5 separate regions of the Homo sapiens genome follow, and all the other regions are linked to region 4. Evidence: fine-mapped expression QTL. A gene starts in region 4. Each other region holds a variant in brackets. All regions are shown on one strand. Distances are from middle to middle.

Region 1 (6,163 bases), 71 kb after region 4:
ACTCATTGTCGTTATCACTTAAACGTATAATTAAGTCGGAAAGCCATTCATTTTATGACTAAAACCATCTGCTATGATCTGTTTCAATTTCATAAAATACCAAAATAGTTGTCATCCATTTTCGCTTGGCTGAAATCTCCCATTTTCTATTTTCTTCACAGATCTCCTTTATCTCATCAACTCCCTGTACCTGGTCAGTGGGTTCACCTGACTCCTCTACTGTCCCTGCTCCCCTGAACCCCAGCCCTGCTCCTGCATATTCAGGGTGTCTGAGTTAGAATCCTGGCCCTACAGTTCTTGCAGGGAGTTAGCCACTCTCACAGAGGATGGTGTAAGTGTGACACCAGATAACAAGTGTTCAACGCCAGGCCTCCCCTTCTCCCTCCTTCCTGCTCTATTTCAAATGATAAAGGTCAAATGCCTCTTTTCTACGCCCCACCTTTGCAATCTGCTCTCCCACCTCATCCTTTTAACATTTTTATTAGACATAGGGCCTTTCTATGTTGCCCAGGCTGGACTTGAACTCCTGGGCTCAAGGGGTCCTCTCATCTCAGCCTCCTGAGTAGCTGGGACTACAGGTGCAAACTTTCCCTTCATTCATAACCTCACAATGTGCTGTATGGGGTGGGGGGGCGGCGGTCAGAGAACTCCCTTTCCTTCCCCAAGCTCCACCCATTCTTGGTTCTTAGCATCTTCTGGACTATGTCAAAGTAAAAGGTCTCTCTAACTAATTCGTAGGCTAAGTCCCTCCCCTTGGCTCTCTTTTTTTTTTTTCTTTTTTTTTTTTTTGAGACAGGGTCTCACTCTTTCACACAGGCTGAAGTGCAGTGGTGCAATCTCAGCTCACTGCAACCTCCACCCCCAAGTTCAAGCCATCCTCCCACCTCAGCCTCCCTGAGTAGCTGGGACTACAGGTACATGCCACCACGCTCGGCTAATTTTTGTATTTTTTGGTAGAGATGGGTTTCACCATGTTGGCCAGGCTGGTCTCAACCTCCTGACCTCAAGTGATCCGCCCGCCTCAGCCTCCCAAAGTATTGGGATTACAGGCGTGAGCTACTGTGCCCAGCCTCCTCCACTCTTTATCTACCTCCATTTTCCACAAAAGAAAACCTAGCTGGGCATGGTGGTGCTCCCCTGCCGTTCCAGGGAGGAGTTCAAGACCAACCTGGGGAATATAGCAAGATCCCATCTCTTAAAAAAAATAAAATAAAATAAAAATAAAGAATAAAAAAGGGGCAGGCCTCTCCTGTCCTGAAATAAACACATGAACAAACCCTCCAATGCTGCCCTTCAAGCTCCCCCTCACTGGCAAACTTTGTAAGTTATCTGCTTTTAGGGCCTCCACTTCTTTTTCTTCCCAGTTACTTCTCAATCCAGCACAGTCTCATACTTATTTTTCTTATTTATTTTTTTGAGACAGGGTCTCGCTCTGTCACCCAGGCTGGACTACAGTGGTGCCATCGTAGCTCACTGCACCTCGACCTCCTGGGTTTGAGCCATCCTCCCACCTTAGCCTCCTCAGAAGCTGGGACTACAGGCATGTGCCACCACGCCCGGCTGAAAGTGAAGATCCTCATACTTTTATTTACAGCACTTTCTACACTGTAACAGAGTTTAGGTTTCTGTGTCTCCCCCACTATACCTGAGCTCTACAATGCAAGGACTGTATCTCAGTCATGCTGAATGCCCCAGATTCCAGCCCGTAAGTGCGAGGCTGAATTAAATGAAGCCCAGGGGCTTCACATGCAGCAGTTCTCCCCCAGCCAGGCAGCTCGGTGCTTCTCAAAGCCTCTGCTCCTGTTTGTTCCCAACGCTGCTCTCCTAGCGTGGACGCTCCTCCTCTCTCCCATCTGCAGAAGGTAACTGGGCTCCTGGCTGATCGCCACCTCAGCCTTGTTCCTCCAACCTATCCTCTACTTGGTTGTCTTCTTTTTTTGCTGGATACTCGTCTAAAATCTAAATACAGGCTGGGTGCGGTGGCTCATGCCGGTAATCCCAGCACTTGGGAGGCTGAGGCGGGTGGATTACCTGAGGTCAGGAGTTTGAGACCAGCCTGGCCAACATGATGAAGCCCCATCTCTACTAAAAATATAAAAAATTAGCCAGGCGTGGTGGCAGGTGCCTGTAATCCCAGCTATTTGGGAGGCTGAGGCAAGAGAATCACTTAAACCCAGGAGGCGAAGGTTGCAGTGAGCTGAGATCGCGCCATTGCACTCCAGCCTGGGCAACAAAAGCAAAACTTCATCTCAATAAATAAATAAATAAATAATCTAAATACAATCAATTCAATCCCCAGTTTAGCAATCCTTGCTGAAGAAAATCAGGCCCCCACACGCCATCATCATAAGCCCGCCATGATCTGGACCGCACCTCCTTCCACTCGGGCCCAGCACCCAACCTGCTGCTGCTGGAACACACCTGCCCACAGGCTTTGGTGCCCACACTCATATAGCTCCCTCATTTTTTTTTGAGATGGGTTTCCCTCTTGTTGCCCAGGCTGGAGTGCAATGACGCGATCTCGGTTCACTGCAACCTCTGCCTCTCAGGTTCAAGTGATTCTCCTGCCTCAGCCTCCCGAGTAGCTGGGATTACAGGGATGCGCCACCACGCTGGCTAATTTTGTATTTTTAGTAGAGACAGGGCTTCTCCATTTGGTCAGGCTGGTCTTGAACTTCTGACCTCAAGTGATCCGCCTGCCTCAGCCTCCCAGAGTGTTGGGATTACAGGCGTAAGCCACCACCCCCGGCCCAGTTCCCTCATTTTTATTAGAACTTTTGCAGTGTCTGGCATAAGAGGGGCACAAAGACACATGCTGAAGGAATAATGAGGGATTCTTGTTTGTTTCCAAGTATCCATGTGGTATAAAGAGCTCTGACTTTGTCACCTGGCAGCTTGGGGCTGAATCCAGGCTCGGCTCTGTCACTTACCGACAAGCCCTGAGGCCCATTCTCTAACTTCCCTAAAGTCTCTATTTTCTCATAAATAAAACAGAACTAACAACTACCTAACAGAGTTGTCG[G/T]AAGGACTGAGTTAACAGATATAAATAAAATATATAAGAACGGTGTACAGAAACCAATCACTGGAAACAAAAGTCATTCAATGTATTGATTTTTAAAGTACTGAATTGAACCCAAACAGTACCAACTCATACACGACCAACATTTCACACATGAAATTGATTTGGGATCAAGGATTGACCGTCGTCAAGGTGGTGGTTATGAAACTCATCGGAGCCTCTATCTGGCCCCACTTCTTTCAGGAGTTCTGGCCTTTGGAGATGTAATCTGTTTATCATAACTGATTCTGGCCCTAGGAATGACGGCGTTATAAAGTAAAGCATTACTTTAGGGATTCGACTTTTTTCATTTCCGTGAGTGATTCTGCTATAATGTATGGCATATTAGAGATGAGCAGAGGCGGGAGGGCTCAACAGCCTGTACCGGGATAACTCACCATGCAGGCGGCCTGCACCGCCTCAGACACGTTACCAGCATTAGGCTCGCACCAGAAAACGTGGCACTCAAAGCGCTGGTTCCCCGTGTCCATGATGAAGGCAAATGTGTGGACGTCCTTCCCAACACCCATGAAGGACAGGAATCGCACACGACATTCCACTAAGACTTCCTCTTCATTCTGCAAGAGACATTATGCGGCATCCAATCAGGAGATCCCAGGATCAAGCTTAAGAGTGGCAGCACATAGGAACTGGCATTCAGAAAGTATAGCCAGGCCGAATTCAGAAAGGACCTGTGTTTTTCTCGAAAGGCGGAACCTTGCCCAAATGTCTGAAGAGGCCATCACTGCATGGCTACCCTGTTCTGGAGGTCATTCTTGCTCTGAACTACACTGCTGTCATGGGGTGTGATGTGGGTCCCATTCTCCATTATGCTACGTGGCTGTGAGTTCACTGTGGGGAGGGACAGTGCCGTCCATACTTCTTACATCTAGCCCAAATACAGGACACCTGGTGGCCCAAAACCCATTTGGCCAAGTAAACCCCCAGAGCACCAGAAAAAAGGGATTCACGGTATCTTTCTTCGTCCAGTGATTCTTACCCAAACTAAACAGCACACTGAATCACATTTCCATCTAAAACCATATAAAACAAAAAGCTGCCAAATCAACAAAAAGTTGTCAAATTGTTTTTTTCTTTTCTCTCTTGCAAACTGGTGTCCATCTGGGATCCACATGAGGCAGCGTAAAGAAATGTTCAGAATTCTTTCTCATAGGGATGAACACCACATCCTTTGCAAGAACCATATGCAAGTTTTGAATTAATAAACACATCCAAAATGTTGACTTTTGGATCATTAACATCTTGACTAATTAAATATTCACTCTAGTGCCTTGGGAGTGTTTAATGAGCAAAGTACACTAGTGTGAGAGGTCGGGAAGTTTTCTCAGGAGGAAGGAGGCTGTGGTGGTGATCTGGGTAAGGGTCGGGTAGGCAGAGGGTGGAGCATGGAGGGTGCAGTGCTTGCGATGATGCTGGTGTGGGGAAGGGCGGGACCTACTTGAAGAGGTGAGGAGAGCTCAGTGTGGCCAGCTGGAGGCAGGCAGTGAGCACCCTGCTCCTCTCTCCAGGGTGAACCGGGCAGCTGTGGGGCAGGCTGATGACTGGTGGTCTTTCCCTGGCAGGTGCTTCACAGAGGCAGAATAGAAAAGTGGGCACAAGTCTGGGCCAGGTTGCCTGGATTTAAGTCCTGATTCCATTGCTTCCAACTGTGTGATGCTGGGCAAATGACTTAGCCTCTCTGTGCTTCAATTTCTTCAACCACGAAACTGAGATAATTTGGGCTGAGGCTAATGTGGCCTCTTCTCAAGACAACCAATAGCTCCTTCTGCTACTGATAGTCACAGGACTCTCCCAAATGGAAGCATCTTCTGCTTTTCATCCCCAGATCACACAGCCCAGGCAATACTGGCGCCCTGAGAGTGAGCGACTACTAGCGTCACACACTCACCTCTAGCAAACAATTTCTCTCTGGGGCACATGAGGAAGACAGAATCAGAAGCACCAGAAGAGAAGTTTCTCAGGCCACAGGAAAACAGAGGTATGCACAGATTTAGACCCAGACAAAGGGCCAAATCTTTCAAATGTAGGCCATCTTAATCACAAGGATGCACAACTCCGGCCTTGACTATGTTCCTAAGTTCCACAGAAAACCACTGTATCTTATACTCACTGTATAAGACACACCAATGTCATCGAAGATTCCTTCTCACCTTTTCACTGATGACAGTCACAGTGGCATCAGCCACGTTCATGTTCACTGACAGCCAGTCCTCCTTGTTGGATGAGGTCATAAGATTTTCTATGGCACTGTTCAAAATATCCATTCCTGGGGACAGAAAAGGATAATTTAAAGTGTCCTAAAGCCACTTACCACACTCAAATGTGGGCCCAAATCACCAATAACAGCTACGCCCAGACTGATCTTTTTTTAATAGACAGGACACTTCATTCTCATGTTTGCTCAACAGGAATGAAATACCAGCTTCTGGCCGGGCGTAGTGGCTCACGCCTGTAATCTCAGCACTTTGGGAGGCTGAGCCAGGATCATTTGAGGTCAGGAGTTCGAGACCAGCCTGGCCAACACGGTGAAACCCTGTCTCTACTAAAAATACAAAAATTAGCTGGACATGCTTGCTTGAACCCAGGAGGCGGAGGCTGCAGTGAGCTGAGATCGCACCACTGCACTCCAGCCTGGGCAAGTATCAGTGAGACTCTGTCTCAAAAAACAAAAAAAGAAAAAGAAAAAAAAGAAATAACAGCCTTTTCAGTAGGAGAGGAGAGTCAGGAGAAGCTCCGGGGACCTGGTGCCTTAGACGCTGTCTACCTATGCAGACCATGGCCCTTCAGCCTCTCTCCACCCTCACTGTCTCTTGATGGCACCTTTACAGTGGATCCCCCCATTGAGTAGGGCCCTTTTGCCAGCTGTTTCCACAGTTTTTCTGGGGGATAGGGGTGGGAGTGACAGCTTTATTGAGGTATCATTCACATGCAATTCACTCACGTAAAGTGTGCAATCCAGTGGATTTTAGTACATTCACAGAGCGCACCCATCACCATCATCAATTTTTTTTTGAGACAGGGTGTTGCTCTGTCACCCAGGCTGGAGTGCAGTGGTACAATCACGGCTCACTGTAGCCTCAGCCT
Region 2 (6,163 bases), 61 kb after region 4:
GGCCTAAAAACTATTTCTTATTTCTTTTAGTATAATAAAGAGAGTCTTTTTATTTTTACTGATACATTGATAAATATTTGCGGGAGACACAATAATAGCTAACTCCCACATTTAGTAAATGCTTCTTTAATTGCAGCGGGACCCTTCTGAGACAGTGTCTGTGAATGATGTTTTGGCCCGAGCTGCAGCCAAGGGTCTGCTGGATGGGATTGAGTTGGGTAAATCATCAAAACGGGAGAAGAAGAAGAAAAAATCAAAAACATCATTGACAAAAGGTGCCACTACTGATAATGGCATCCAAATGAAAATTGCTGAGTTCCTGAATCGAGAAACTAAAGCCAGTGCTAATCTATCAGAGACTGTAACAAAACCACCTCTTCCCCAGAAAAATACTGCTCAAGTGGGGGCTTCCTCACAGACCAGAAAACCCAACAAGCTGGCCCCCCATCCTGCAGTGCCTGCATTTGTGAAGAACACTTGTCCCTCCAGACCGCGTGAACGGCAGACACACTTCTTAAGACCTCGGCCAGAAGACAGAATGGTTGCTCTGAAACCCATCAAGATTGTTCTGCCTCCAGTCTTTATGCCATTTTCAAGTCCCCAAGGGATCAGATCTCGGATGCCAACTCAACATTTGTACTGTCGTTGGGTTGCACCCAAGGCACTTGTGCCCACCTGCCTTCCCACACACTCACTATCCAGAAAAGAGGAAAAGCCTAAAGATGACACACCTTCCTCCCTACTCAGGCCTCCTCGGCGATGGCTTTGATTGTCTTGTGTTTTTTATAGGGGCCAAAGAGCAGTTGATTTTTTTTCAAAGTCTAGTATTTCTCTGAAGATTCTACATCTCTACACAAGATATTCATTCTTTTGGTCACCTAGGGATCTTCTAAGTGTGATATTACTTTCAGAGAATTCAGACAAGTGAGAAACAATAATGTAGGAGTCAGCAAAGCAGAATTCAGAGACTTCAGCCAATCACTGCTGCTCTGAGAGGATCCAGTTAGAGACTCAGTATCAGCGGTCAGAACTTATCTCACTCCTGTGAACTTTCAGGCTGGACTTAAAGCTGCCAAGTTTCCCCTGCAGGGAAGGAAACACTGCCTCCCTTCAGCAGGTAGCTCATTAGAAAGCCAAACAGGCAAACGATCCTGGCCTCTCCCGCCAGCTGACCGCTCTTCAGCATCCATGCGGTTGTAGTCGTGACTTTCTCAGTCACGATCAAGGGTGATTTTTTCTTAAATATCAAGCTGTTCTTTGAACAGGGAATGAACATGAGTTTTTGTAACGTGACTGAAGTTGAGTTTAAGTAGGAAGCGCAGGAAGTTCCCAAGTGCCAGGTGTGTGTAGCTCAGAGTTCCTTTTACAGTGAGGTGTCTCTCACTGGGGGAGCTTCCAGGATCCTGAGCAGACTGGACACAATCATCTCTCCCTTCCTCTATGTCAAGCACTGTTACAAAAGACTGTGAGCAAATTTCCATCTAAATATTAATAATTCTGAAGAAGAGGCAAAACTGTTGAATGCAAGCGATACCTATTGTTGAAGAAACCCACAAATTTCTGATTCTAAGATCAGGGGATACAACAAAATCTACAAGTCATTTCAAATAGCACACAGGAATCAAACTTTGGTAAATCATTTCTGAGGCACAATTAAATATATTGTAGCACTATGTTAATTAATTATATTAAATGTCGATTCATCTTGAATGTATTCTCAATTGCCTACCAAAAATTGGTATGATTATCATTTCTGGGTCTACTGATTTTTCATCATGGCAACAGAAATTGTCATTAAATAGAATTAAGATACAACTATATATCTTATTATTTAAAAACATTCATAGACATATTCATAAAGTTTGAATTTAAAGTTTTATTTTTGCAATTCAGTTGTATAGAAATGTTACATAAATTCCTAAATGCTCAATTCAGGTGGCATGATTTTTAGAATATTATCTTCTTCAAGATGAATACTTAGGTCTACTTCAGCTCTGATATTCTATTTTTACTTTCTTACTTGAAGTGAGAAAAGAGAATGGTGAATTGTATTATAGCGGTAATACATTATTTTTATTTTAGCTTAGATTTACATTTATCAGTAAAACGTGTCAGTGGGCTGGGTGCAGTGGCTCACATCTGTAATCTCAGCAGTTTGGGAGGCTGAGGTGGGCACGCCACTTGAGCACCGGAGTTCCAGACGAGCCTGGACAACATGGCGAAACCCCAAAACCCCATCTCTACAAAAAATACAAAAATTAGCTGGGTGTGGTGGGACACGCCTGTAGTCCCAGCTACTTAGGAGGCTGAGGTACGAGGATCTCTTGAGTCCAGGAGGTGCAGGTTGCAGTGAGCCAATATTGCCCCACTGCACTCCAGCCTGGGAAGCAGAGTGAGACCTTGCCTCAAAAAAAAAAAAAAAAAAAAAAAAGTGTCAATGAAGAAAGGAAACAAGACTTTTTATAGTTGAACCAGGCTTATTGTATTTTAAATCCCTGAAGAAGAATTCTTCATGTTATCACTCTTGTACAGAAAGATATAAAGTGCTCAGCTTATTTTGCTGATTTTGAAAATCAAACACTATCTCCTTGCCCTAAAATTATAGCGTGTGGCTCATCCTCTTATCCCACCCAGATTTCTATCTGGTTGGTTAGGGTAGTCCATGCCTCAAGGAAGGCGGTGCAGCTTAATTTAACATATTGTTCAGTAAAGAATCCCATTGTGTATCATAAGAATCCCTTATCCTTTTCGGGCCCTCCACCATACCAGACTGAAAAGTATTCCATTGTCCAGAAGTAGCTGGTCTTGAGATTTTTATTTTCAAGTGTATTTTCTGTGATGTTGTCTCATTGTTATGGAATAGTTTAGGATAATTTTCTGATCTCTACAGTAGCATGTGAAGTCACAATTTGTTGCCACTTACATTGATTATCTCCTAACATGCATTTGGCACTAAATTATTTTTCTCTTTAGAAGTATATGAAGATTCTGAATTAAACCATTCATTAATTACACTGCAGTTTTCTTCTTTGAGAATCTTCTATGAAGGACAGGATTATTTAAATACTTTGGTAGAGTGAAAAGGGAAAAGAATTTTGGATAAAAGCAATATGAGGCCGGACGTGGTGGCTCACATACTTTGGGAGGTTGGGGCGGGCGGATCACCTGAGGTCAGGAGTTCGAGACCAGCCTGGCCAACGTGGCGAAACCCTGTCTCTACTAAAAATATACAAATTGGCCAGGCGTGGCGGTGCATGCCTGTAATCCCAGCTACTCAGGAGGCTGAGGCGAGAATTGCTTGAACTTGGGAGGTGGAGGTTGTGGTGAGCTGAAATTACACCACTGCACTCCAGAGTAAGACTCCTCTGTCTGAAGAAAAAAAAAAAAAGCAATATGAGGGAATTCTAATGAAGGAGAATATTGATTCCACTGACATGTTTCATTTGGCATTTTACATTCTTGGACTTCTTCTTGAGATA[A/AAAG]AAGTGCTGCAAAATTCTAAATAATGAAATTACTAGTATTCAGATACTCCAATAGCAAACACATTTTTAATCTGAAATTATTTACCACCATATAATGCCTGAAACCATAATGAAATTTTGTTACTGACTAGAGAGAAACCACTGTGGAAGTGCAAGATGAACAAAAAGCGGGGACATACTTTAAATTCTGTTTATCTGCCTTCCTGCGCCTAACAGTTAAGCTAAACCAGATTCAACTGATTTCTCTAGTTACCTTTCATTTTGGATTTAGTGTGTGTACACCTCTATTCTTTATTCTTTGATGTCAGGTTCTTAAAGGAAGTGATAAACTTCTTCGTGCTAAAATATCACAATCCTAGCAAGACCGCTTACAAAAGACTCGAGTTGGTGACTAAATAGGCTTCTATGTCCGGAAGGCCAGCTGGCCTTCCTGATCACCAAATAAGTACAGGGTGATTACTCAAAATTTGAAGTTACTTCCTAGTTCTTACCAGGCAGAAATATGTAGTAACTAATCAAAGCAAAATGCTCCATTACTAAAGTGATTTCTAAGAAGTCTGAGGTAAGAATAATTTAAAAATAACTAGAGACACCGAGTTTCTATTTCTATTCCTTGTATATGTGACTAAGATGTCAGATAAATGAGCCGAACGTTTTATGCAGCTAAATTTATTCTCACAACAAATTACATTTAAATGTGTAAAAGTGGTCAACAGGAAAAGGGCATAAAGGAAAACAAAGCGTTCTTTCAGGGGAAGTAAGCTGCTCTGGAGGCCAGGAACTACTGCTTGCGTTGACACGGTGTGAGTGGGTATCTTTGCCCTGAAGCTGAAGTTAAACTTTCTACTGGCCGTGTGGCACACACGTTAGATGTGTATTAGGTTAAGCCTGGCCAACTAGAGAGCGAAGGGGCTTATTAGTTAAATTGTGCTAATATCAGTTAGGAAAATGCTTGTCATGTTGTGGTGAAATCTTGAGGAGTTTGTGTTGCAATGCCTGGGACATGAACGGGCCATACAAACAGAGGAAAGCTCTGGGGCTTCCAGGCAATGGCCTTGTGTCGAGTCATCTTACAAGTGTCCATCTTGAAATCATAAAGTGGATTTAAAAAGAAGTAGCAGTGCCACAGTTTATCACCAAGAACTTATTTTAATGGAAATGGGTCTAATGTCCCTTCATGCAACAAGACAGATGAACAAAAAACAATGGTCCTAATTAGCTATGAGTGATCTTGTATCCAGGTGGAAACAAAGGGCATGTGTACATGTATATATCTCTTAGATGAAATCACACATGTTGTGAAGGGTAGAAAAACGAAGCACCAAGCAGTGCTTTAGTCTGCAAAGGAAAGTTTTTAGCCATAGGCATGTTGGCTAGTCGTTCCCCTTGATGTTGCCAAGGAGCAGATGTATGAGGTGGCAAGTCTGTGTCTATCTAGCTGCTTTTAAAAAATAAAAGGAACTTTAAGCATTTTGCCTTTTCTTCTACATATCCCAATAGAAATGTGACTACAAATCATTACAAAACCACTTTTTAGGCAATGTATAGTTCACTGAGATTACTTAGATCTGGATACACTGGGAGATAATATCCAGGAAAGATAATACATTAACACAATAATGCAGTATATTTCAGTAAAAATAGAATAAATAAAATAAAAATATTTTAAGCTGTATTTAACAGGTTAATTAAAAATATGGTAAGACATAGAAGGCATCGTGAACATGGCTGCCTGTTTACCGAATCACAGATCTAAAGAATGCATAGATAACTGAAGTGTCACTAAGATATCAGGTAAAACATTGGCATCCTTTTACAAACAAATACACACATACTTTCATACATACTTTTTGGCCATGGCAGAAAGTGTCTGAACATACTCTTTAACATAATTTTACAAAATTAATTTGCATTTACTATACAATGCCATTTTCAAAACAAAACGTCTGCAAAGTTTTCAATATGTAAAGGCTATCATTCATCTTAATGCATCCTATAATTGCACATATAAATCAGTTTGCTACTTAAAGCTAGCTCAGAATTCTTGATCTTGAAAACAAGCAAATGTATGCCTTAAAAAATGAAGAGGGAGTTCTGGTAGAGATTTCCAATATAAAAGTGGGTAATTTGTTTAGAATTTTGAAATTTATCACACTAAAATGTTTCACTACAGCGACCGAGATGAAAGATCACTGTAAATGATTTCTGAACAGCTTTTCAAAGGGCACAGCAAGGATTTTCTTAATGCAGTAATTTCTTATGATGGCACTGGTTACTTCAGATCAGTAGTATGTCAATTGGTGAAAAACAGACTGCGTTTCTAAAGTAGCATAGTTTTGTCATAACATTGGGGTGCTAAGACAATTCCGGTCCCCCTGTCCCCCACCCCTCATGAATTCTGAGGGAATGGCAGGTAGAAAAGCCACCCACTCATTCCATCATGATCTCTGGTGGCTAAGTACCATGAGTTAGGAATGTCTACCACAAGTAGCATCTGGAAAATCTCGTAGATGGAACAGGCTGTGAATGTAGAATCCTGCCCTCTACAACACTTTTGAGGCACGCTGTAGGAAAACAGTCCTGGACTTAGATAGGGCACCATCATGAATACCACTGCGTAAGGAATTTGGACATCTTTCTCCCACTCGTGTAGGGAATTCTAAGATTCCCTGACAATAGATCTT
Region 3 (6,163 bases), 550 kb before region 4:
GACTGGGAGGACCTTGTGGGCAAAGGCACAAAGGCGAGACTGACCTGGAGATGATAAGGCCAGTTGAAGAGACACTGGAGAAGAGAAGACAGTTTGTTTTACACATTGCAGGAAATCAGATTAGACAGTTAGGGTGTGGACACAAAAGCGAGGACCTTGCAGGCACTGGGGAGAAGTGACCCCATTCAATAGTCCTTGGTCTCCTTCTGCCCTGCGGCTGCGCTTCCTCGGCTCTCACGGCACCAGCAGAATTCCATGTGAGAGGGAGCTTGTCGAGCGTGGCCTCTTCCCACTTGGGGCTGCTTTCTGCATCCCTGTGCCTGGCTGTGGGCCTCCATTTGCCCTCTACTGTCTTCCCTTAGGACATCATTTATGCAGAGAAAGGTTCGTGTGGCTCGGGGTACCAGTAAGACCTCCACCTCTGGTTTCTTCATTTTAAGGAGGCCCTTCAATTATCCAGGAATTAAAGTGGCCTTCCTCTTGGGAGAACGAGTTGGTTGATGAATGATAAGCAAGTCTCTATTCCTCAAAAGCCAGTCCCCAAATTCCATGAAATATGTGCTACTTTCTTTGCATGTCTAAATGAGATGGCACGGGTATGCTTCTGTTCTTTTTCTGGACGTTGTTTAGAGAGTCAGTAGATCATAATAATTCAGACACTTTTTTTCTGGACCATAAAATATCTGAACCCATATAATAACAAACATACAGCACGGTGAATAAGAACCCAACTTTTGAGCCAGATCACTTTGCATGGAATCCCCATTCTATCATTCTATCATTTCTGGGCTGTGGGAACCTCAGACAAGTTACTTAACTTCTTCAATGCTCAGATTAAAAAAAAAATTCACAAAATATCTCTAATAACAGTAATAATAACTGAAAATACCTACCTCAGAGGGTTGTCGTAGAGATCAAATGAGATAAAAATATGTAAAGCATGTAGCCTAGTGCCTGACTGAAAAAAAAATCTCTCAATAGATGCAACTCTTATGATTCTTATTAAGGACTTGGCTATTGCCACAAATGAAGGTGTTATGAGCCCTGGCTTAAGAGCAAGAAGCCTGCAAAGCTAACTCTCCTAATCCCAACATTCCTTTCCAGGGAAAGTAGGGTGACAGGTGGAGGCTGGGAATTAACGTTTTTTGAGCACCAAATATGGACAAGGCACAGGGGTTGGGTGTTTTTCTAGTGAGAATACATATGAAAGAAGGAAAACAAACTTGGAAACCGCTATTTTAAGCCATTTGGTAACAGTTTCTCTAGCTTATGAGATGAGAGAGGTCCTCTCAGTATCCGCTGCATTACTTGTGGGCCTCCTTGGTTGACGTCGCTCTCTGAACGCTTGGGGTGGAATTCTAGAGGTGCTTTTCATTAGAGGCAGAGAGCATGACCTTTCTTCCTTGCCCAGTTTAAATTAAATTATTTTATCTTACAATGTGTTAATTTTAGTGCTAGCAAGGCACAGCTAAAATTCCATTTCTACTTAGGAGTGGGGATCATTGTGGCAGTGAGTGCTTATTTGGGTTTGGGATGCTTGGATCTGGGTGAAAGCCAGGATTAAAAAGCATCCTCCTTCCCCATTCCACTCTCTAGGTTATAAATATTTTTTTGGATTAAAAGCCTCCTTTAAAAAAATGCAAATCCACCTGGCATGTTAATTGTGCAGGGGATTCCTAATTATGTGTGCAGATGACGTGAGTCACACGGTGATAGTGTTCCTTCTAGAGTCCCACTGGTGTCCTAAGGGAGGAGACTCTGGAGCTTTGTGTATGAAAAGGGATGGGCACAAGTCAGGATGGGGTGCACAGGTGGAGGCTGGGAGGCAGCATGACAGTGTGGGGGCTGGGGTGGGCTGTGAGAGCAAGGAGGGTGTCAGAGATGGAAAGGATGACCCCAGGGGGGTGGAAGGGTGCCAGAAACTTAGGGCTCCTCTGTGAGCTCTTTAGCCATTTGACTCTAGCAACTGCTTGAATGCCCTGAACAACCTTTTGACGACTTGCACAAGAAGTTGTCATACTGTTCCCCGGATGTGGACAGTTGTTCAGAGACCACGATCATGTGTCTGGTGTCTCACTGTGGAATAGTGGTTTCTAAAGCTGGCTGGACAGCAAAACCACCTGGGGAGCTTTTAAGAAACTGAAATTCCATGTCTCATACCCCAGCCCTCACGTGAGGTCCAGGAATCTGTGTGATTAAAAAATACAAGCCCCAAAACAACTTGGAAAGTGGTCGTTTTGCAGGTGGGGATTTAGGAACCAAGAATCCAGAACTCTCCTACCAGGGCCCCAGAAACCGTAAGTTGAATAAGTGCTGAAATGAGGCAAATTGATCTACTCTCTATTGTGATTAATATCTTCACACAGCAAGTATTTTCCTTTGTTTTGAGTTCATTCCTTGAGATGAGTTATCGGGAGCGGGGTGACTGGGTCCAGGATATGAGGATGTTTAGCTCAGTCATACCCGCATTTTAACACGCAAACGTACGGTGCCGCTCATTTAAAAACCAAAGTGTTGTATACATGTAGAAGCTATATATTATTCCGGGGCAGCCCAAAGAGGGGATGTTGCTTTCAAGCGAAAGCACCAAATCACATTCTTTTCTGGTAAAATAGAATACTAATGAATTGCTTTTGGAAGAAATTTCCAGAGCATTACTGAATGTTCAAGTGCTTCTTAGAGCACAAGTTGAACCTTTCTTATCTCTGCACTCAGTTTCTCGTAAAACTGAAGTCACAGTGACCTCTTCCCCATTTCGTAGAAAAGAAACCCAAGGAAGAGAGTGGTTAAGAAACAGAAGATACGGTTCTCATCACATTTGCCTGAGAACTACGTATAGTCATCCATTCAGTGCCTCGTTAAGTAAATAAATGATTGAATCATTTGTATACATGACCTCATGGAAAAAAGCACGGTAAAATGAATGTTTGAGGGTGGGTAGACAGAATTATTCAACCCGGACAGGTGTTAGATGTTCACTCTATCCCCCCCTTTTTTTTTGCATTAGGTTTTATTCATTATTTGCATCATCTATGGACCTAAAAGCATGCTCATTGTCACACAGATGGGAACAGGGTGAATTTTCAATGATTTCAATGAAAAAAAAAAAAAGATGTGCTGTTGCAAAATATCAAGGGAGATGTTTACAGTGGTGTTCTAGAACCGGCTTGCTCTCAAGTGCTGATTGTAATATTTTCAGAAATTTTCCAAGCCAGTGACATTATTGACTTCTCTTTATCTGTGTGATGGAAATGCTATATAATATTGTGCTATCTGAGCATCTGTTTTCAATTTTGCATTCAGCGATGTCATGATGGTGGCTTGAAATTGGCTATGGTAAAAGTACACTGTGAAAATCAGCAAACACAATAAATCAGGCTCCCCACCTTTTTTTTTTCGGGGCGGGGGGCAAGCATGTTGTTAAACGTTTACTAGCATGCTACTGAGGAACTGTGTAAAATACAAATATGGCAATTTGACGATATGTATCAAGAGCCATTAAAGTGTTCATACACTTTGATCCATTCATTCCACCCCTGGAAATTTATTC[C/T]GAATAAATAATTCAAAGAAAAGTAATATGCATGAACATATTCACTGTATTATCATTTATAGCAGCAAAATCTGAAAATACCCTGAACACTAAGCAATAGGAGTTCTGGCAACATTAACTCCATGAGTTTTTTTTTTTTTTTTTTTTTTTTTAAGACAGGGTCTTGTTTTGTCACCCAGGCTGGAGTGCAGTGTGTAATCACAGCTCACTCAGCCTTGACCTCCTGTGCTCATTTGATCCTCCTGCCTTAGCCTCCCAAGTAGCTGGGACCACAGGCGTGTGCCACCACACTTGGCTAACTTTTTTTTTGTAGAGACGGGGTCTCACTTTGTTGCCCAGCCTGGTCTCCATCTCCTGGGATCAAGTGATCCTCCTGCCTTGGCCTCCCAAAGTGCTAGGATTACAGGCACGTCACTGCGCACAGCCCATGGGTTCTTTTAAAGTCATTAAAAATCATAGTTATGATGGTTATGAAAATATGTTTGATATGATGTTAGGTTAGAAAATCAGAATTAAAAATTTTAATTACATTCTGATTTTGTTGTGAATAAGAATTAAATGTGAGCCGTAAAAAAATGAATGACAGCATTTGGTATGTTAGAATGGTGAAATAGTAGAATTTGTTTTTATTTTGTTTATTGTAGTCGTGGTGTGTGTTCATTTAAGAAATTTGGAGAACACCTGTTAATAAGTGATCTTGAGTAGTTTTAACATTTAGGAGGAAGGCTATGAGTTTTGTGAACCACATGGGGCTTTACCTTTAACCGGTAGATGTTACTGTGAATCCCTGGGCAGGGTATTGTAAAGGGAGTTTGGAGCTAGGCAGTGTGAGCTGTGGATGCTAAAGGGGTTTCTTTAGAGCAGCTTAAGGAGGAGGAAGAAGTAAGTAACTGTGTCCTGAGGACTTGCTAAAAGTAGACTGCAAGGACTGAGAAATAGCCCAGAGAAAAACTACCATCAAAGGCCAGAGAGACAGGCGAGAGAAGGTTTCTTAGGAAGAGACAAGGAGACGCTGATCTCAGAGGTGAACAACATGGATAAGAAATTAACTCCATTTTGACCTGAAAAAAATAGGGGCTGACACCAGAAAGGAAATGATTTTTGTAGAGCAATGGTTCTCAAGTTTTATTTATTTATTTATTTTTAGTTTTTTTTAAATTTTTTATTTTTTGAGATGGAGTCTCGCTCTGTTGCCCAGGCTGGAGTGCAGTGGCATGATCTTGGCTCACTGCAAGCTCCGCTTCCCGGGTTCACGCCATTCTCCTGCCTCAGCCTCCGGAGTAGCTGGGAATACAGGTGCCCGCCACCAGGCCCCGCTAATTATTTTGTATTTTTAGTTGAGACGGAGTTTCACCGTGTTAGCCAGGATGGTCTCGATCTCCTGACCTCGTGATCCGCCCGCCTCGGCCTCCCAAAGTGCTGGGATTACAGGCGTGAGCCACCGCGCCCGGCCAGTTCTCAAGTTTTAGTGTGTTTAAGAATCACCTGGATGAGTGCGGGAAGAGTTAACTAATTTAGCATCCAGGTTCCATCTCCATGCATTCTGATACGGTTGGTCTAGAGGTTGGCAGGAATATGCATTTTTAACAAATCCTCCCACCCTATGAAGACTCTGATGTGAATTGCCTGCAGATTACACTTTGAGAAACACTAGTGGAATAAATGCAACAGTTTGGTTTTGTCCAGGGAAGGTATATCTGTGAGTGTGTGTGTGTGTGTGTGTGTGAGAGAGAGAGAGTGTGTGTGTGTGTGTTGAAGGTGAAGCCGCTACTTAAAGGCTCAGAATTGAAGGACTTATAATGTAAAAGGGGAATGAAAACAGAGAAAGCCCAGAGGGACAAGTTATTTATTTGTTATAGAAACAAACAGCAAAAACCAGGAAGCTGTACTTACGATATTCCTTAAAGGAATATAGTTTGTGGCACAAAATCCTCTTCCACAGTTAAACAATTTTGTCCAGCACTTGAACCAATTAAAAGTAGCTGTGACTAGGGGAACTATGAGCACAGAGAAAGATGGTCATGGGGAGAGTCTGGGACCCATAAACATTCTATTTCAGGCCATCGAGCGGTGGTTATTAAACCCGTGGTAGAATATGGGAGTGCTACGGACAGAAAACACTCTGGACCTTACTGTATGATAACATTATGTTAAAGAAGAAAAGAAAGTATATTTTTTGATGAAATGTAGTATTTTATATACAGAACTCAGCACTCAAAATAGTAATAACAATTAGACTTATGCCACAACAACATTATATCACAAAATAAACATATGAAAGTGAATGACATCGCAGTAGCCACTGTTCTGAGATTATCTGCTTCACCTGGCTTTGGAAGTTTAGTGATTGTAATAGCTTTCAAATAGCCTTCAATGTCTCGTGCTCTTCTTAAAGTGGAGATGATTCTTTTACTTTAATCACATTCCCCATCGTCAGGGCCTCTGATCTCTTGAGACATGATGTGGTAAATCAAGGATAAGTTAACAACCCATCTTCACATTGGAGGCGCAAGTCACAGGGTCTGTCGGATGTGCAAGGGTCTAACGCCTGAAATCAGACCTCTTTCTACAAGCACGCGCTGACTATTCTATTCCCCACCTAACAGGGTTTTT
Region 4 (6,163 bases):
TTTTGATTTTCTCCTCATGTCTGATTTAATGCTCTGGTCATATTACAGAGTGTAACTTAAACAAAAACTACATTTTTTTTTTTTACTATCCTGCTTTCACAACAATTGAACTCATATGCCTGTCTCTATGGTTACTTTTTTACAGTGTTCACTGAAATTTAATATGCTCTCCTCTGACCCTCCCCTCAAATACATTAAGTCCACAATGAGGCTATAAACCAGGAGTGAGAAGTAAGGAGGCAGGATTATATACATGATTAAAGTAAATAGTAACCATGAATTTGCTAACCCCACAACTCTTTGCCTAAGCTCTACCTTGGGGATAGAGACTCGTTAAACCTTGTTTTCAATATAGTAAACTGTTACTTACATTGAACTATTATTAAAGAAAATAAACTCTTCAAATTATATTTTGAATGACAATATTTCAAAGTTTATAGCTAGCTATTGCCTCACATCACTGTGTACTGGGTGATGCATGATAAAATATATCATGACCTCTAAGACACCTTCCATATTTGTAATCTTCTGTGAATGTCTGTATGTGAAAGAGAGTGATATTTTGCTAGCATCTGGGAATAAAAAAGATATATAATAAAAATGAAAAGATAAAGATAAAACAAGACTATTTTAGAGTGTGTGTGTTGTGTGGATAGAAAGATGGCAGAAGGGGGGTAATGCAGGTATGTACACGAATCTTTATAACAAAAATGAAAAGGTGACAAAATACAAATATATCCATCTTTAATTTCTTGAGGGCAAGGTCTTTGATCATTTCTTTTTTTTTTGAGACGGAGTCTGGCTCTGTCACCCAGGCTGCAGTGCAGTGGCCCAATTTCGGCTCACTGCAACCTCCGCCTCTCGGGTTCATGCCATTCTCTGGCCTCAGCCTCCTGAGTAGCTGGGACTACAGGCGCCCGCCACCACGCCCGGCTAATTTTTTTGTATTTTTAGTAGAGACGGGGTTTCACCGTGTTAGCCAGGATGGTCTCGATCTCCTGACCTCGTGATCCGCCCGCCTCGACCTCCCAAAGTGCTGGGGTTACAGGCGTGAGCCACCGCGCCCGGTCAGGTGTCTGATCATTTCTATACATTCATTATTTTACTTGTAGGGCTGAACACAATGCCAGGGACACAGCAAGAATTTAATATATACTTGTTAAACGAACGAATGAATGCATGTATACATAAAATGTTACGGAATGTTTAACGTATTCCGGGGATAATGAAAGTGGGTGGATTTCTGAGAGAAGGGGTCAGGGTTAGAGTTCTGTACTGCTAATTTTTTCCCCATTATCCATTCTCTCCTTCTTCTACAGTAATAGTTCCCTTATTTTTAGCTGGACACATTTACCAGCCTCTTGGTTGCTGGGTATATGACTGAGTTCTGACCAATAAAATGTGAGCCAAAGTGATATGTGCACCTTTCAGGTCATTGAAAAATATGGGCTGCCCTCTCTTTCCCCTTCATCCTACTAACCACTGGCTGGAAATGGAAATGGCCTTAGCCTAAAGAAGGAAGGGCAAATCCCTAAGGAGGAAAGGCAGAGGTGGAATTAGGACCAGTTGTCTTTCAACTATACCAGAGTTTTTCAAACTGTGGTCTTTGGGCTGATTGCATCAGAATCGCCAGTTACCTGATAAAAATGCAAATTACTGGGTCTTAGCAACTCAAATCTCTAGGATGGGTTCCAAGGATTTTTTTTTAGCTGGAGGCGGTGGTTCACGCCTGAAATCCCAGCACTTTGGGAGGCCGAGGAGGGAGGACTCCTTGAGCCCAGGAATTCGAGACCACCCTGGGCAACATAATGGGAACCCTGTCTCTGTTATTAAAAAAAATTATTACAGACGGCGCAGTGGCTCACGCATGTAATCCCAGCACGTTGGGAGGCCAAGGCCGGCAGATCACTTGACGTCAGGAGTTCGAGACTAACTTGATCAACACGGTGAAACCCTGTCTCTACTAAAAATACAAAAATTAGCAGGGTGTGGTGGCGGGCGCCTGTAGTCCCAGCTACTCGGGAGGCTGAGGCATGAGAATCACGTGAACCCGGGAGGAGGAGGCTGCAGTGAACCGAGATTGCGCCACTGCACTCCAGCCTGGGCGACAGAGCGAGACCATGTCTCAAAAAAAAAATTATTACTATATTTTAAAAATATTTTAAAGAATGTGTAGTTTTAACAGGGACTTCAGGAACTTGTGAGTTAAAACCACGGAACTACGTCAGACTACCTCAAAAATATCCCCAAATGTTTATAAACAAAGCCAAGGGCACGCACTCAGGCCCGGTGAGGTCCAGGAACTGTGCAAGAGGCCTCTGGCTCGGAGGGGCTGAAACAGGTGTCTCCGCGCGCTGGGGGAAGAGCGACTCTCCCGGCAACAGGTAGCACCCGCCAAATCCCGCGGGAACGGCCCTCGCGCCGCGCCCCCTGCCCCACCTCCGCTCGCGGTTGCCATGAAGACCCGGTCCGGGAGCAGTCGACTGCCGGAGACTCGGGAGGCTGAGCTTTCCTCGGCCTGAGCCAGCCAGACCCCGGGCACCGCGCTCACCCCTCTTCGCCGCCACGTCCGCGAAGGCCTCACGCGCGAGGCCAGGCGAGGCCCCGAGGCGCCCACCACTTCACGACACCGGAGCGAACCGGGCGCCAGAGGCTGCGACCCCCCTGCCCCGAATCCTGCCGGTGGGAGTGGCTGCATTTGAACCAAACGGCCTTCGCGGGCAGCAGCCGTCGCCCCGCAGTCCCGGGGCTCCCAAGGGCCTGTGACCGACGCCGCCCTCCGCGTCTTCGTCCCCGAAGCCCCGGGAACCATCCGCCCTCGGGGTAAGGGAGGAGTCGGGGGAGCCGGTGACTGGGCTGTGGGGACGCGGACGGGGCTCCGGGGGCAGCTCTGCCCCCAGACTGGCTTGAGGGAAGCCGTCGGTCTCCTTGGGGCTCTTCTCCCTCCGCCGCTGCACCCCTCCTCGCTTTTTTTTTTTTTTTTGAGCGTCCCAGGCTCGAAGTCTGGGACACTCAGATGGGACGGGAAATGCTCCCTCTTAGTCTTTAAGGCCACAACGAAGGGGGCCACCCACAGGGGTGCTGCAGAAAGAGTGATTTACTGCAATCACCTTCTCTCTTCACAGAGACCATGCTGCAGATGCGAGGAAAGCCGTTTCCTGGAACATCGGAATTCTAACCCCAGGGTGAAGGACTCACGACAGGCGAGGGGCAGACATGCTGAATTCCACGGGCGAACTGGAGTTTTCGAACGAAGAAGATCCCGAGATCATCTCCCAACTCACTTCCCTGCCTCTGTCCGGTGGGAAAAGCTCAGCTGGTGTGCCCGAAAAAACGGGCTATCCGGACTCCGTTTATGTCATGGCAGCCAACATTTTTCAGGGTATTCGAATCGAAAAGTCGGCACAGAAAGTCTTAATCAAGTATGGGAATGAACCCCTGCGGTCCTTGTCCGAGTCTGAGGATCAGTCCTTTCAGCGTTTGTCTTATGAGCTGGCTTTCAGTGCCCTGAAATGTGAGTTGTGCCAGTCTGGAAGATCAACACTAAAAGAAAATAATAGCGAGAGAATTTGGGGAATGCAGCCCTCCTCCTCCCTTCCCCTCATTCACACCAGGTTTTGGTTTTAGGCATGTGCATATCTTTGGTTAATTGCAAGTGTCAAGGAATTAGGGTTCCCATGAAACTAGCTCTTCCAGCCCAGGATTGCAGATTTCCCCGTGCACTGTGTTTGTCCTTAGATCGGTGTAGTGCGCGGTCATTACATTCAACAAGGAAACAATTTATTCCAATGATCATTTCCCTCTCCCTGTATTTTTTTTTCCCTCGTAGACTTAGGGGTCTCGCTTTATTGTCTGGGCTGGTCTCAAACTCTGGACCTCAAGGAATCCTCCCTCTTCAGCTTCCCAAAGTGCTGGGATTACAGGCAGTGAGCCACCACGCCTGGCCTCCCTGTGTATTTCTTTCCATTCCCTGTGTTTACCTTTTTTGGTATTTTAGTTTATGAGCTTTCACAAATATAAAACCAGTGAGGGAGGATGGGGAGAGGAACAGAGACGGAATAAAAAGAAAAGGTGCAAAATTTAAAAAATGAATATCAAAATTACACCAACCCCAATTAAGACTATCCCATTCATAGCCACTAGCTTTAATGGGAGGAGCCAAACTTTAGTAGAACTTCCCTTTCTAATTTGCTTTCAGGGTTTGAGACTCAAGGATGGTTAGTTATCAATCTGAGGCCAAGGGTGGTTGCTCAGGCCTGTAATCCCAGCACTTTTCGAAGCCAAGGTGGGAGGATTGATTGAGCTCAGGCGTTAAAGACCAGCCTGGGCATATAGTGAGATCTCCTCTCTACAAAAAAAAATTTAAAAATTAGCCCAGTATGGTGGCACATGTCTTTAGTCCCAGATACTTGGGAGATTGAGGCGGGAGGATCGCTTGAGCCTGGGAGGCAGAGGTTGCAGTGAGCCAAGATGGTGTCATTGCACTCTAACCTGGTGACAGAGCAAGACCCTGTGGAATTGACACTAGGAAATGACCAAATATTGCTACTATGAGGAGAGCAGTCAAAAGGCTTGAAGTTGTTTGTTTTCGTACTAGCTGTGACTAAAAACTTTATGTTGGTTTGTAAACTGATTGAATGTAGTTCCAAAAAGAAGTTCCAGAAATGTTTAGAATATTAGCAGCATGGCCAAAATGATGAGCAGAAGCCTTCCTAAAGAGACACCTCAAAAAGGGCAACACTCTTTTGCATGATTTTCTTAGTACTTAATGAGCCTTGTACATCCTTGCTCGTAGGAGGCAGTTAATTACTCAGTTCAGCCAGATGCGGTGGCTTACACTTGTAATCCCAGTACTTTTGGAGGTGGAGGTGGGACGATTGCTTGACTTCAGGAGTTCAAGACAAACCTGGACAATATAGCAAGACCCCATCTCTATTTTTAGTTTTATTTTCTATTTTTTTGAGATGGAGTCTCACTCTGTCGCCCAGGCTGAAGTGCAGTGGCACAATCTTGGCTCACTGCAAGCTCCGCCTCCTGGGTTCACGCCATTCTCCTGCCTCAGCCTCCTGAGTAGCTGGGACTACAGGCGCACGCCACCATGCCTGGCTAATTTTTTGTATTTTTAGTAGAGACGGGGTTTCACGGTGTTAGCCAGGATGGTCTCCATCTCCTGACTTTGTGATCCACCCACCTCAGCCTCCCAAAGTGCTGGGATTACAGGCGTGAGCCACTGCACCTGGCCCCCCATCTCTATTTTTTAAAATTAAAAAAAAATGCTCAGTTGAATTAAAATGTCTCACTGATTATTTAGACAGGAATATATATTTTTGGTTGTCTGCAGAGAGTCTCTTTGTTTTTTGTTTCTTTGTTTTCTCCTCAGTAATTTTTCTTTTCCTTTTAAGTCCGTCTTAACCATTCTTCCTCCAGTTTAATCTCTGAGATTTTATTTCATCCATCTTCTTCCCCTCTCCCCTAACCAAAGTGTTGTATTTCATGCAATGAATCAAATGAACATTTTTATACTTTTTTTCTCGCAACAGTGAAATGCAGACTGGGCAGCTGTGTTGATTAATTGGCATTTAATGTTAATGCTAGAATTTTATTCTAGGCAATTTGTTCTCCTAATGGAATATTGAGTATTACCTTTAGTACTCAATAAGAAAAGCCTGAATTATAATTCTATATAAAATTAATGCATTAACTAAATGATTGTATTACAGTGATATGTGTGATAGATTATTATTTTTGTCCTCTCCCTCCTATTTTCTATTTTATGAAAGATCTTGTAATTATTTTATCTTTCTTTTTTTTTTTTTTTAGACAGAGTCTCACTCTGTCACCCAGGCTGGAGTGCAATGGCACAATCTAGGCTCACTGCAACCTCTGCCACCCAGGTTCAAGCACTTCTCTGCCCCAGTCTCCCAAGTAGCTCCCAAGTGGCACCTGCCACCACGCCTGGCTAATTTTTTATTTTTAGTAGAGATGGGGCTTCACCATCTTGCCCAGGCTGGTCTTGAACTCCTGACCTCGTGATCCACCTGCCTTGGCCTCCCAAAGTGCTGTGATCTTTCTTAATGACACAGAAAATCCCATTCAAATAAATTGTCATAAACCTTTATGAAACTTCTTTTCTTGAAACGTTCGTTTTTATAAGTTCAAATTA
Region 5 (6,163 bases), 470 kb after region 4:
GCCGGGGGAACCCGCAGCCGCTCGCCGCACGCTGCTGCCGCTACCCGGGTGTTTCCCCAGCACTCTCGTGCTGCCCCGGAATCCGGGGCAAAGGCAAGGAAGAAAGCTGGGCTCACCAGTGGTGCGCGCGGCGCTCGCCTCGGCTCCGGCGCCCAGCGGCTCTGCTCCAGTCTCGCCCTTCCCGGAGCGCCCAGATCAGATGCGGTTACAGCGCACTAGCTTCCTACTTGAGACCAGAACGGGCTCCGGCAACTGAGCATGCTCAGTGCCGTTCCGCGAGTCCCGCGCAGGGAGCGGCGCTGACGAGATTCCACTTCTCCAGGCTTTGGCAGCGGCTGCGCGAGGGAAGGCTGGAGGGACCCGGCGGGGAGGGGGCCGAATGGGAGAAAGGCGGGGCCGGGGGGTGGGGGCCGGGCAGAAGGAGGCGGGCCGCGCTCCCAGGGCGACCCCTGCAGGTGGAGGCGGCAGGGCCTGCGGGAGGCACCCTCCCCAATCGCCTGGGAACACGCAGGGAGGCAATGGGTCCCCCAGTAAGACCCAAAGGCAGGACGTGCAGTGCAGCCCGGGTATCCCCTCCGTGTGGCTGGTGTCTGTCTGCACCAAAAGGCAGTTGGGTTACCTTAGCCCTGGCTTTTCTCCCACACGCCAGCATTCCCTTGCAATAGGAAAATGTCCCCACAGGAGAGCTGCCCACACCCACCCAGGCTAACTGCAAGTTGTAGGCGACACCTTCTCCTTCCTTCTACCTCCTATCCCCACCCCCAGGCATATGCCGCACACACACTCTTCTTTGATCCGGAAATCACAAGATAATATCAGGGGAGAGATACAACTGCCGGAGAGGAAAAGGAGGTTTTCCTTTCCATTGCCAATAATATTATCTATAACTCTAATTGTAAGCGTGCAAACAAAGCCCTGATAAGAGTCGAGTCTCAGTAAACGGTAAACCGTGCTCTGCCCCAGACGCTGTGAATGACATCCCCAAAGTATCCTTAGGATTGCTCTTCACCAGGGCAGCGGTTGTCAAACTGGAGCCTGGATCAGAATCGCCTGGAGGGTTTGCTGAAGTACAAATCCCTGAGTCCCAATCTGTGTCTCTGAATGGGTAGATATGTGGTGGGGCCCAAGCATCTGTATATCTAACAAGTTCCCATGGGATGCTGATGCTGCTGGTGTGAGGACTATACACTTTAGAGAACCCTACCCATACACACACACACACACAGTCCTACCAAGGATCTCGAATTAAAAACTCACGTGATTCTTCCTATGAGGACTCTATGCAGTGGGGTGGGCATTACTTTATTCTTTCCTACATGAGTTTATTAAGGATCCACGAGGTCTTGTACTAGGCCTGAGGATAGTGGTGAATTTAAAAGCCCAGGCCCCTGCTTTCATGGAATTTATAGTCCGGCCGGGTGACAGACACCTATCAAATAATCACTCAAAACGGTTATTTCAAACAGGTAGAGTGCTGGGAGGGAAATGCACAAGGTGCGAATAGAGTGTATAGAGGGACCCTCATGCAGACTCAGTGAGGTTGTTACGAAGGGATGGGAGGGGGGCTGCCTTGTGGAAGGTGGTTTCTGACTTTTGCACTCCAATAACCTCTCCAATTAACAATTATCTCCCTCAGACCGAGCTGGAGGCCAGCAATCATGTCCCTCCTTCCTACAACATAAAAACAATACTGTCACAGAGAAATCCCTATAAATTCATGAAAAGTGTTTACTCTTGGGACTGAGTCTCTGCACCCCAAGATCCACCTAACACGTCCGTGGACCAAGGACAGTCGAGGGCCACAGTAGACCTCTTGGGGAAAATACAGGCTCTCTGAACTGGAGAGCCTGTGGTTCTTAGTCTGTGATCTTCAAGGCCAAAGAGGCAAGGAAACCAGCCCAAGACCACCATTCCCGTCAGGAGCGGAGATCGACCAGCCTCCAACCTTGCAGACGGGTCCTCTTTCCAAGGCACTCTATTCCCGGACCTCACAGCTCCCCTCAGATCCCCGGAACCCGGCCTGGCCACCCCGCTCTCTCTCGGGGGTCCGGGGTAGGTGAGCGGAGCCTGCCCCTCCCAGGTCGGTCTCTTCCCGACGGAGAGGAAAACCCGCGGTGGAGTCCGCGGCGGCGGGGGGGGGGGGGGGGGGGGGGGCGGGGCGGCGCGCGCAGGCGCAGAGGCCGCCAGGTTGGGCCGAGGAGGCGCCCTGCTCCACACCTGATGCAATCAGCCTTCCGGAAACGGGTCCCGCTGCCGCGCTCACCCAGGAAACACTTCCGCGCCCTCCTCTGGCCGCTGAGCTCCCGGGGACGGGTTCCCAAACTCCCCCGGCCCGACTTCGCCACGGGCGGTGTTCTGCGCCCCGTCGGGGATACGCCGGAGAAGTCGGGAAGTCACTGCCTGGGCACACAAAATCCCTGAAATGCCCTGACAGTGACGTCGAAACGGCCACCAAGCGTTGCGCAGCTGCAGGAGGAAATTCCCTTAATTATGAATTTACAGAGGGGACTGATCGGGGCCGGAGGGAAGGCTTTGACCCTTCCCTTGCTTCCTTCCTTCGTCCGCCTCCCAACACATTGTCTCTCTCACTGAAAGGAACGTTTAACAGCAGTTTTAAGGCAGTATGGAGAGGAATCTCCATGCCCTCTGTCTTGCTAAATATGTAACAGCACTTTAGCTTTGCTACATAAAGCTTTCCCACCGCGCGCTCATTTTATAAATACGTAATTGGTTTCTGCATACCTCATCATTTCAGTTTACAAAGAAAATCATTTCTCGTTTCACCACTTCATGCAATTTTTATATCTATTGTGAGTGGGTTTTTTTCTTCATGCTGACTCACCCATTAATTGTTTTCCAAGGAAATGAAATATCCAAGAATATTCCAAGAGCATGTTTTTTAAAGCATGGAAGTAAACGCTGTGAACAGTAGATAAAACTGACCTCTCTTAAGTCCCTTAAGGCCAAAGGTCCTCCTAGGGAGTTGGGGGAAGGAGGCAGATCCAAGGAATTTTATTTGGAAGGATACCTCAAGACCATTCTAGAATCAAATCAAGATCAACTCTTAGACTTTACAGATGACATTTACCTCTCTGTGGCCCAGAGAAATAAATGACTTCTTTATTTAGACAAACCAAAGGCAGAACTGGCACTTGAAGCCAGATTTCTCAAAATTCCAATCTAATGGGGAAAAAAAAATGTTTTTTGCACAAACACCGTAGGGAGTGCAATACTATATTACAATGCAGTTTTACAATCCAAAGATTACAAAATACAAAATAGGTGACAACAAAAGGGATCCTATTACTTGT[T/TCCTA]CCTGTGACGTCATTAGTCTTTAAATAGTCCATGATCAACAAATATCCAGCCACTTCTAAGTGGCATTGAATAGCCAGAGTCTAGGAATTAAATATTTCAATTAAACAGGTATGAGTCAGGTGCAGTGGCCCAAGCCTGTAGTACCAGCTACTGGGGAGGCTGAGGCAAGAGGGTACATGAGGCTGGACGTTCAAAGTTGCAGTAGGATCTTGCCTGTGAATAGCCACTGCACTCCAGCCTGAGCCACACAGCAAGACCTCATCTCAAAACAAAACAAAAAAAACAGTATAACTACAAAACATCAAGAAATCTTCTGTGCCAACATTAAGAACTTCTAGTATTATTATTTGATTGTGTGGTATATGTGCAACGGTTTGAGCTTAAACCAAGGGAATTTTAATGATCACAACAAAATATCACGGTCATGATTTTCTTCTGTAATGATTTTAAATACTTTAACAATTTAGTAATCAAAGTGAAATAAAAAACAACTCAAAACTCATGCCTGCAATAAGATAAAATCTAATTCTTCAAAACTCTGTCTACCTTCTTATCTTGAGGAATGAATTTCTTTTTGGAATGTTCTGACAGAGATCTGGAGGAACACCTTCTATTGAAGCAAAAATAGAGTTGAGTAAATGTCAAAATGCAGAGGTACAAAATACACACTGTCACACGGTACTAGTTTTAGAATAGCTAACTCTTACTGACTATTTAGCATGTGCCAGATACTGGCTAAGCATTTTCCATAGGTTATTTAACTCAATCCTCACAACTACCCTATAAATGAAGCACTATTATTATCCCTATTTTATGGATAGGGAAAGTGAGGCTTGCAAATGTGAAGCAGCTAACTCAAGGCACAAAATATTCATTGGCAGAACTGGGATTTGAACCCAGGCAGTTTTCCTGGAGCTTGAGCTCTTAAATAATACTATGTATGGAAAAATGTAAATACAGAGAAAATGACTATAATGATTCTCAGATAAGAAAGGAGAGGGAGTATTGTACTTACTCTCCTAAAGATAAAACATAGTAAAATAAGTTTGTAGTCCACACTAGGAAAAAACCTTTTGCTAGCTAATAAATTATGGTCCCCAAATATAGGACCAATATTACCCAGAGGTATGAGGCAGATGATCAAATATCGAGTGATTTTTCAGGGGTACCAGCAAGGCCTCTTCTCTGATGAACCCTCTACGCCTGACTGGTTTCTCTAGTCCTAAACCATCCAATATGGCAGTCACTAGCCACATATGCTTATTTAATCTGAAATCACTTAAAATCAGTTAGAATTAACTCTTCGGTTCCTCTTTCATACTAGCCACATTTCAAGTGCTCAGTAGCATATGGCCTAATGACTACTGTATTGGATAATGTAAGTAAAAAGCATTTGCATCACTGCAAAAAATTGTATTCAACAGTGCTGCTCTGGGCCTTAATGTCATTAGGGCAATCCTTTAATCTCTCTTCATACTGCACTATTCCTGGGAGGACCATGTTTCCATGGTCTACCTTCCCATTGAGCTTCAGTCCTATTTTTCCAAACTAAAATTATTATTAGAGTGTAGAAAGGTACAAAGAGGTACAAAGCATAAAGTCCCCTACTATCATGGAAAGAATAGGGGCACTGGAGTAAGACCTTATTTCACATTCCAGCTCTTAGTAGTTGTGTGACCTTGGGCAAGCTACTTTACCTCACTGAATCTCACTTTTCTTATCTGCAAAATGGGCATGTTAATTTTTTCATTATAGGTTTATTTAAGATTAAATAACATATGTAAAGCTTCTGGTAGGCCTCACATAGGATGATTTCCTTCCTTCCACTCCTATTTCAGTTAATGACATTCCCCAATTACTCAGGTTTCTAAACTAGAAATCTCAGTCATCTTCAATTCTTCCTTCCTCCTCAACCACCCGCATTAAATTAATCACCAAGCCCTTTTGCTCCCAACTCAGGAATGCCTGCCTCTCAAATGTGGGCCTGCCTCTCTGTCCTCACTGTCCACTGTCCTCACTGTCTTTTCATGCATATTTCAGAATCCTGCTAACCAACCTTGATGACACCCATCACTCCCAATCCAAGCCCTTTCTTCACACCGCTGCCAGAGTGATCCTTCTAAAAAAAGGTGCTGATGATGTCATTCTTCTCCTTTAAAACCGCTGATGACTTCCAGTTGCTTAAAGATAAAATCTTAACTACTAAACTGAAGGACACATAATCAAACTCCATCACTCCATCACTGCTGCTTGTTTGGTTGGTAATAAAAAGAAAATTAAAAATATAACAACCCTTATTCCATTTCAAAAATATATTTGGATTCCTCTACTACCAACCTCTTTTTTCAGCCACCCCGTCCCCAGCTCATACCTCTCCCTCTACCCAACCCCCACTACACCCACACGCCAGCAACTTATGCCCATGAGGCATTCCTGCAAGCACGTAGTGGCCTTTCCCGACTCTGCCCTTGCACACAAATCTCAGGCTGGACTAACACTTTTACATATTCTTTATCTGGCAGAATTTTACTTACTCTCTAAGGTCCAGTTCAGATATCACTTCTTCTATAAAAGCTCCTTCAACTCCTTCAGGGAAAGGTGGACACCAGCTCATCTGTGATGCCATAGATTTGAGATAGATTGTAGATGCCGTATTTGGGCTACCTGGGTTTAAATCCTGGCTGCATCACTCTCCCACTGCTAGTTTTGGGCAGACGACTTAAACTCTTCACCCCTCAGTTTCCTCATCTGAAAACAATGATAATCATAGCATGAATATCTTATTGTTGTTACCAAGCATGTGAGATATTGCACGTGAAGCTCGTAACAATGTATCTGGCCCACAGGCAAG

The links.
Region 1: its variant is fine-mapped to the expression of NSUN7 in whole blood (INTERVAL, PIP above 0.99).
Region 2: its variant is fine-mapped to the expression of NSUN7 in testis (GTEx, PIP 0.97).
Region 3: its variant is fine-mapped to the expression of NSUN7 in nasal epithelium (TOPMed, PIP 0.98).
Region 5: its variant is fine-mapped to the expression of NSUN7 in whole blood (INTERVAL, PIP above 0.99).

Annotation. Positions count from the first base shown.
Region 1 is chr4:40,818,415-40,824,577 of GRCh38, forward strand. It overlaps APBB2 (amyloid beta precursor protein binding family B member 2), which reads right to left. Exons shown (of 18, transcript NM_004307.2): 16 at 5,230-5,345; 17 at 3,457-3,636. Among named protein-coding and RNA genes, the nearest start is that of NSUN7, 72 kb to the left of the region's middle. The variant G/T (reference allele first, on the strand shown) is at 3,023.
Region 2 is chr4:40,808,171-40,814,333 of GRCh38, forward strand. It overlaps NSUN7 (NOP2/Sun RNA methyltransferase family member 7), which reads left to right. Exons shown (of 12, transcript NM_024677.6): 12 at 137-3,014. The coding sequence ends at 769. It overlaps APBB2 (amyloid beta precursor protein binding family B member 2), which reads right to left. Exons shown (of 18, transcript NM_004307.2): 18 at 1,857-6,163. Among named protein-coding and RNA genes, the nearest start is that of NSUN7, 61 kb to the left of the region's middle. The variant A/AAAG (reference allele first, on the strand shown) is at 3,480.
Region 3 is chr4:40,198,269-40,204,431 of GRCh38, forward strand. All of the region lies in intron 1 of RHOH (ras homolog family member H), which reads left to right. Among named protein-coding and RNA genes, the nearest start is that of RHOH, 4.3 kb to the left of the region's middle. The variant C/T (reference allele first, on the strand shown) is at 3,551.
Region 4 is chr4:40,747,478-40,753,640 of GRCh38, forward strand. NSUN7 (NOP2/Sun RNA methyltransferase family member 7) reads left to right here and starts at 2,478. Exons shown (of 12, transcript NM_024677.6): 1 at 2,478-2,823; 2 at 3,126-3,514. The coding sequence starts at 3,217.
Region 5 is chr4:41,214,289-41,220,451 of GRCh38, forward strand. It overlaps APBB2 (amyloid beta precursor protein binding family B member 2), which reads right to left and starts at 254. Exons shown (of 18, transcript NM_004307.2): 1 at 117-254. It overlaps UCHL1-DT (UCHL1 divergent transcript), which reads right to left. Exons shown (of 3, transcript NR_102709.1): 3 at 5,786-6,060. RefSeq lists silencers at 349-518, 2,136-2,185 and enhancers at 2,194-3,008, 2,316-2,565. The variant T/TCCTA (reference allele first, on the strand shown) is at 3,312.